2 separate regions of the Homo sapiens genome follow, and region 2 is reported to be linked to region 1. Evidence: microRNA targets listed by miRTarBase, many of them from high-throughput screens and not tested one by one. Region 1 holds a microRNA gene; the other region holds the end of a gene's coding sequence.

What was found. The annotated mature microRNA hsa-miR-6508-5p reads UCUAGAAAUGCAUGACCCACC and lies in region 1 at 2,029-2,049, shown strand. An mRNA with a match to its seed (bases 2 to 7 or 8) in the 3' UTR can be bound and repressed. Matches are read on the target gene's strand: a 7mer-m8 pairs with bases 2 to 8, a 7mer-A1 pairs with bases 2 to 7 and ends in A, and an 8mer does both.
Region 2: miRTarBase lists SAMD9L as a target of hsa-miR-6508-5p. Seed matches in the 3' UTR shown: 7mer-A1 at 1,580-1,586.

What each region holds. Positions count from the first base shown.
Region 1 is chr21:39,444,986-39,448,985 of GRCh38, forward strand. MIR6508 (microRNA 6508) reads left to right here and starts at 2,025; the gene lies at 2,025-2,084. The region is part of intron 8 of GET1-SH3BGR (GET1-SH3BGR readthrough); the gene reads left to right. LCA5L (lebercilin LCA5 like) reads right to left here and starts at 793. Exons shown (of 11, transcript NM_152505.4): 1 at 740-793. It also overlaps a transcript of SH3BGR not described here. RefSeq lists a silencer at 704-963.
Region 2 is chr7:93,127,738-93,131,737 of GRCh38, reverse strand. SAMD9L (sterile alpha motif domain containing 9 like) reads left to right here. Exons shown (of 5, transcript NM_152703.5): 5 at 1-1,682. The coding sequence ends at 521. Among named protein-coding and RNA genes, the nearest start is that of SAMD9, 12 kb to the right of the region's middle.

The DNA.
Region 1 (4,000 bases):
GCACACTTGGGGCTCACTGGAATTCAGATAGGCTCTGAGTACAGGCGACTGGATGAGTTCATCTAGGGATTGAGTGTAGACAGAAAAAAGGCTCAAGCTCACATTCAGCCGTGAAAACTGGTCTCTGAAAAAAGTTAACCGTTGGCTTAAGTGTGGCAACGAAACGTTAACACGCTGAGGGGAGGGTGTGGATAAAGAGCCCCGAGGCTGGGTGAGTGGGGGACAAACACAGACAGAGAAGACATTTCAAAAGATTTAGATTCCTACGAGATAGGGAGATGCCAGCGCTAAGGTTAGAAAGAAAAACTAATCCAAAGCAAAACAGCAAGTAAGCAGAGGCAAAATCGGAGGTCAGATAGAAGATTCAGATAGAAAAACCCCAAAGTTCCCTCGGTGGGGCGGCGGTGAGATCGGCCTCCGCCCCCTCGCCAGACCCAGGCGCGGCCCCGGGAGCGCTAGGTCACCTCGGCCCAGGCCGTCCCCCTGCCCAGCGGGCCTGAGAGTACGTGTGTCGCCGGGGCGCCCGGTCACTGCCGAGCCGGGGTAGCTGTTCCTTGGCAAACTGTGCCGCGAGGAGGAAACGGCGGGGCGCCAGCGAGGCAGGCAGGGGCGAGGACTGAGTGACCGGCGATACTGGAAGCCCAGAAAGAGCGTAGCAGGAGGGTCCGGAAGGGCCCAGAGCTGGGGCTGTAACAGGGTAACCGGCTGAGGGGGACGACGGCAGCAGCGGGGCCGTTACCTGCTCCGCGCTGTTCCCACGACTGCGCCAACGCCGCAGCGCCGGCGCGTCCCCATGGAAACCCGCGCGCGGGGCCTCCTGGGAAGCGCCGGCCTGCGGGGGCTGGGCGCGCGCATGCGCACTCGGGCAGCAGGAGCCGCGGCGGGGAGGGGCGTCTTGGGCCTGGAGGTCAGTGTGGCCTCGCGTTTGTCTTCGGTGACGGGAAGTGAGTTTCTTGTGTAGACGTCTGTAAACGATCCTCCTGCCGTCCCTGTTCGGCGCCCGGGACCCTGCCTTCCCGCGTGGCCGCACCGAGACGAGGGAGCCTGTCACGCGCTCTGGCGCTCTCCTGACCTCTTAAGGCTCTGTCAGTCTTAGGTAACTTGAGTCAGTAGGTGGGTGTAGACGCCTGGTCAATTCCTGGGAAGCACAGTTCCCCTATTAACCCCTTGTCATAAAGACGATTTTTTTTTTTTTTTTGTAAAACAAAATCTGATGACAAAACAATGCATGTTTGGCATAGAGAATTTAGAAATGTACAGGCAAGTCCAAAGCAAAAGTCAAAATCACCTAGATGATGGAGTTATAGATGTTTTTTAATGACAGCATAGGAATTTGGCATAATTTAGGAAGACTTACATTGTTTCCTTTTATTTATTTACTTTTTTTCCTGCATCAAAGCCATGTTGAATATCCTTGCAGATGAATCTTTGAGGTCACCCCTGACTGTTTCCTTAGGATAAATTCCTACAAGCGAGGTTGCAGGGCCAAAGCATATGCTCACTTTGAGGCTTTCTAAAGGTAGAGGGAAACTGCCTTCCAGTAAGTGTCCCGATACTTGGCCCGCATTGGAAATTCTCTTTTTTCTTAAAATTTTTTTGCCCATTTTATTGTCAAAAATTGGCATCTTTAATTGTATTCACTTCCTTTTTAGTAGGAAGAATAGACTTTTTCCCATATCTTGAGTGCCATTTGTCCTTATTGTGTGATTTGCATTTTCCTGTCTTTTGTCCATTTTAAAACTTGACATTCATCTTTGTAAAAATGGGTTTTGTAAGGACTTTTGATGCTTGAAAACTTGGCTTGTGATATACGTTGCAAATATTTCCTCAATTTGTCAGTTACCTTTAATTTTGTTTACAGTGTATTTTGGTATTTGTGTAGAGTCAAGCTTATTACATTTCTCTATAGTTTCTGCATTTGGTTTTTATATAAAAGGAGAAACGGGTGTTTTTTTTCAAATTGACTTTAATCCTACTTTGGTAGAAGTGGGTTAGGACAAGCTTTCTCTCCATATCACCATTTCTTCCTCTAGAAATGCATGACCCACCCTGAGTTTTGGTGGGCCATGCATTTCTAGAACTCCTTAGGTAGGGAATTATCCGTATAAGATGGGTGCCGGTTGTTTTTGCTGGTGGTGGTGGGCGGGGCAACATCTCCAGGTAGGCAAACATTAGACAAATGTCACTCTAGACTTGACATTATGGAAAGATGGGCTGATGCTTGGTGGGTGGTGGTGGCCCCATGACAGTAACGAGAGCGGAGTTTTGCCATTGCGGGAGCATCCAACCCTGGAGCTCATGACTGGAGGAATTGAAAGGTAGAGTTTCCTGAGAATGGTTTCCTCCTCTTTTCTACCAGCTTTTCCCAGTCTGTAGACATGATAAGTCACTGCAAATCTGCCCTTGAATCTTTCTTTGCTTTCGCTTTTGCTTTTTTTTTTTTTTTTTTTTGAGACGTATCACTCTATCGCTCAGGCTGGAATGCAGTGGCGCCATCCCAGCTCACCACAACCTCCGCTTCCTGGGTTCAGGTGATTCTCCTGCATCAGCCTCCTGAGTAGCTGGGATTACAGGTGTGAGTCACAACACCCGGCTAATTCTTTTTGTATTTTTAGTAGAGATGGGGTTTTGCGATGTTGGCTAGGCTGGCCTTGAACTCCTGACCTCAAGTGATCTGCCCGCCTCGGCCTCCCAAAATGTTGGGATTTCAGGCATAAGCCACCGTGCCTGGCCTTTGCTTTTGCTTTCGAAGGGGTGTTCTTTTCTGTGTACACAATGGAAGGAGAAGAGCCATGGCCTTTCACTATTCTGGGGCCATCTCCATCATGCCACATAAAAAGCATAGCCTTTATTTCTCTATATTAGGTTCCTAGGTTCCTAGGGATGTCATAACAGACTACCACGAACTTAGGGGCTTAGAACAATAGAACTTTATCTTCTCACATTTCTGGAGGTCAGAAGTATGAAACCAAGTTGTCTGAAAGTCCATGTTTCCTCTGAAGGCTCTTAGGGAGAATTTTTTGAGTCTTCCAGCTTATGGGGACTCCTGCTATTCCTTGGCTTGTGGCAGCACCACTCCAATTTCTGCTTCCATCTTCACAGGGTGTTCTTCTCTGTGTCTCCCTGTCTTGTCTTCTTATAAGGACAACCAGTCATTGGACTTAGGGCCCACCCTAAATCCAGGATGATTTAATCACAAGACCCCCTCAACTGATTACATCTGTAAAGACTCTATTTCCAAATAAGGTTACATGCTGAGGTTTGGCTGAACATGAATTTTGGTGAACAATATTCAACCCACTACAGTTATTATGGTAATCATTTCCATCATTCTACATAATAAAGACGTGTCTTTATTTGTCATTTTAAGTTATCTGTAAAGTTATGTAAATCAAAACATATCATCTGGTATCATTTATCATGAGATCATCTGGGGGTCTCTATGAAGTTTGTAGCCCAGTACCTCATGTCTTTAAATCAAAATTAATCAAATCAAAAAGTGATGTTATTTGACTTGTTAAAATATACTCCAACAGACGGACAAAATGAACTCCTGTTTCCTAAAATGAGATGCACCAAAAACAGAATGTCCTACTCGGGAGGCTGAGGCAGGAGATGAATGTGGGAGGTGGAGGTTGCAATGAGCTGAGATCAAGCCACTGCACTCCAGCCTGGTGACAGAAACAAACAAAAAACAAACAACAAAACAAAACAAAACCTCCAGAATGTCACAGCCAGAAGGATGAGGGGTTAGTTACGTATTTTTGCATTATTAACTGCTATTAAGTAAGCAGAAACCAGCTTCGAAAAAGCATAGCCAACACAACTTCAGCTGGAAAATTTCCAACTGACCCCGATAGACTGCCTGATGCCAGCCAATGGAAACATTCCCTCCCTCAGTATGCGCCCCCACCCCCAAACGCCTTGCAGACCTACTACAACTCCAGTTGGACAAAGGACTGGTCTTATAAACATTCTTTATTGATAAACAGCTGCAGAC
Region 2 (4,000 bases), not on the chromosome of region 1:
AGGTCTTGCAATTTGTAGGACTAAGTCATCAATATCCAGGTCCTTATTTCTTGGCCTGCCTCCTGTTCTGGCCAGAAAATCAAGAGCTAGATCAAGATTCCAAACTAATAGAAAAGTATGTTTCATCCTTAAATAGATCCTTCAGGGGACAGTACAAGCGCATGTGCAGGTCCAAGCAGGCAAGCACACTTTTCTATCTGGGCAAAAGGAAGGGTCTAAACAGTATTGTTCACAAGGCCAAAATAGAGCAGTACTTTGATAAAGCACAAAATACAAATTCCCTCTGGCACAGTGGGGATGTGTGGAAAAAAAATGAAGTCAAAGACCTCCTGCGTCGTCTAACTGGTCAGGCTGAAGGCAAGCTAATCTCTGTAGAATATGGAACAGAGGAAAAAATAAAAATACCAGTAATATCTGTTTATTCAGGTCCACTCAGAAGTGGTAGGAACATAGAAAGAGTGTCTTTCTACCTAGGATTTTCCATTGAAGGCCCTCTGGCATATGATATAGAAGTAATTTAAGACAATACATCACCTGTAGTTCAAATACGTTTATTTATATCTTTATGATTTTATTCTCTCTCTCTATTCTCATGGCACTTTCATAACATTATGGCTAACCTCTAATTACAGATTTTGCTTTTGCCTCCCTGAATGAATTACAAGCCTTTTTAAGATATGAAATATGCCTACCCGCAGAGCTTGGCACAAAGTGGAGTCAATCTTTTAATGTTTTAAATATGCATTTTCAGACTCAAATAATTAAGAAGTTTCATTGATATCCACTGGTCACATCATAACTGTCTATAGGGCAATAAAATCTGTGTTAAACTCAATTGCTTTTATAAGTTTTCTAAATTATTTCTTCACTGTGACAGCAAAGATTTAAATAAGATGAATGTAAAAGAGAAAGCTTATTGGACTCAAACCCACAGATCCACACCAGAGTTCTATTTACCTCATCTTGGTATCAATAAAAACTTATGTGGAAGGTAAATATATTGTTCCCCATCCACCACATAACACTCTCCCCAACACACACACACACACACACACACACACACACACACACACACACTCCTTGTACCCCTTGCCCTTCTCCCAGCTCATTGCTCCAGGAGAGAGAAGAGTTCAAAAAATAAAGTAATCATAAACTTGAACTCTCTCCATTCTCTTGTTCCCATTTACAGGTGAATCTCTTCCTTTAAGCCATTTTTGTCTCCTGTGAATACAGCCTTATCTCCACCTGTTTCTTAGATCCCATCTCCCCTGGCTTATTTTTTCCATTCATTACCCTCTTTGTTCCCTTTACTTCTCAACCTGTGCTATATACATGCTGTTCTCTCTGTTGAGATTGCCTTATTTCCATCTAACATTCTCTCTCCTGCTATTCTGATTTGTCATTCACAACTGATTTCAAGAGTCACCTTCACCAGGAAGTCTTCCTTGACCACCATCATTCCTGCCTGATTAGAGGGCTTCCTCATGGTAATATGTGTTCTCAAGTTTTCAGTGTCAAGGAATGCCATCCCAGAAGCTCATTCTCAGATGCACAACAGCCAGAACAGTCTCAAGCAGCATTCTAGAGCTTGGAATTTAAGAACTACGCATTGCCTATAAAGTGAAACATAGGCTAATATAGATTAAATTGAATATTGAATAAAAAATATATTTATTTATCCACATCTTTGTATCTCTTTGTAATGTAACTTAGATATTCTGGACTCCAAACCCAATTCTTCTTGTCATCAAGAAGTCTATGCTCTATCAGGGTTCTTCTGGCCTATATTTCTATGAATCTGGGCAACGCTCACATGGTCCAGAACATGTCCCTCTTTCTGAAAGCTGTGTCTGCTGCTGACCCTGCTCCAAACAGTTGCCTCCCTCTTCTGCAGTCCACCAGTCCATACAGTAACAGGATCTCCCAAGTGGCTATACTCCCCAAGTTGTTCATAGGCCTGGGGACATAGGCCTGATCCTATTTCTTTTAAACTCCCCTGCTGGACTATAACATTTAGTAAGACATAACTAAAGGCTTGATGTAGAGAAAAAAGTTATAATGAAAGGAGGAAAAACTACTAAATATTCCTGCTAACCATAATTATCTTTAGAGTTAATAATTCTGACCCCACCACCAGGTATCTTAGAGAGCTTCCTTCTCCTTAGCCCCCATTTCAACAGCCATGCTATAGAGTGATCTTTTCTCATTCTTCTGAATGCAACAACACCTAAACGTGAATGCTTGACTTAGAGAGTAGGATGCAAACCCTTTGATGCCCCCAGAAATAATTACATTCTTCCTGAAAAGAAATATAGTGTAATATGCAAAATGTCACCCCACCCTTAATGAGGAGAAGGTCTTACATTACTCTGCAGAGAAGTTTATGAACCTCAAAAATCTGAGACAGGTCTCAGTTAATTTAGAAAGTTTATTTTGCCAAGGTTGAGGATGTACATCTGTGACACAGCCTCAGAAGGTCCTGATAACATGTTCCCAAGGTGCACAGCTTGGTTTTATATATTTTAGGGAGACATGAGACATCAATCAATATATGTAAGATGTACATTGGTTCCGTCCAGAAAGGAGGGACAACTCAAGAAGGGAGGGAGCTTCCAGGCCACAGGTAGGTGAGAGAAAAACAGTTGCATTCTTTTCAGTTTCTGATTAACCTTTCCAAAGAAGGCAATCAGATATGCATTTTCCTCAGTGAGCAGAGGGATGACTTTGAATAGAATGGGAAGCAGGTTTGCCCTAAGCAGTTCCCAGCTTGACTTTTCCCTTTAGGTTAGTGATTTTGGGGGGCCCAAGATTTTCAAGATTTACTTTCCTTTCACATTTCCCCCCTTATCTTTTTTAAAATCTTCGGAGAAAGCATTTTAGAAGAAAATGAGTCTCTGGTCTCAGGTTTCATCTGGCCTCTCATGGCTAAAATGGTTCATTCCTAGACAGTTAGGTCCCAAGTTATTAGGAAAGCTTATTTTTAGCAAGTTGAGAAGTCTCATGTCCTATGCAGAGAAAACAGGGGGAGAGAGAAAAACTACAAGATATAAAAGAACAATCCTGGTAAATCGATATAGGTCACATTACTCTGAAGCCCGTATATCAGTAGGCAGGTTTGAAAGTGGCTTATGTATGTAAATAGGCTGCTGTTATTTCCTTTTGAAGTTTAAGTTATCTAGCATCAGGTCACAGGGCTTTACAAAAGCACAACTTAGTTTTCAGTGACTCCAAATGAGGAAAAATGGGGGGAAAAAGAAGGGAAAAAAATGAAAACATTATTTTGAAAACTTGTACCCAAGAAACATTAGAATTCAGCCCAAACTGTAGAAAATAATAAAAATTGAAAAATATTAGGCAAGACTAGAATCCAACAACAGATGTACCATAGTTTTTGAAACATAATTTTTCTCTCTCCAGTTTCCCATTTTTACTAAAGACACATCATGGTAGGACCGATTTGCTTTGTTGCACTTAGCCAGATTATTTGTATAAAGTGCAGCAAGAATAATTATTTTTCACATAGGCTTTTTAAATTGGCTTTGATGGAACTTTGTTCCATAGAAGGCATCTCAGATCAGCCTTTATTTTTTGTTTTTGGGTTTTTTTTTTTTTGCGATGGAGTCTCGCTCTGTCACCCAGGCTGGAGTGCAATGGTGCAATCTCAGCTCACTGCAACCTCTGCCAACTGGGTTCAAGTGATTCTCCTGCCTCAAACTGCCCAGCCATGTTTTATACCATCAAATACCTATGAGTTGGGTGAATTCTTCTCCCCTTGAGGTCCCAAGATAACTTGGGGCCCTGGGCCTGTCATAAAGTGTCATTCTTTATTTACCACAGGTCAGGAACCCTGTGCAGGGACTGTGTAGACAAGGTATAAGGCCAGTTTTCCCAAAAATCTTTTATTGGCTCTTTAGGGCAAGTTTGATTCTTTAAAGGAAAGCATGTCATTCCAGTCACAGCCTTGGTAAAATAACCAGTTTCTCCAATTGTGTCCTGTTAC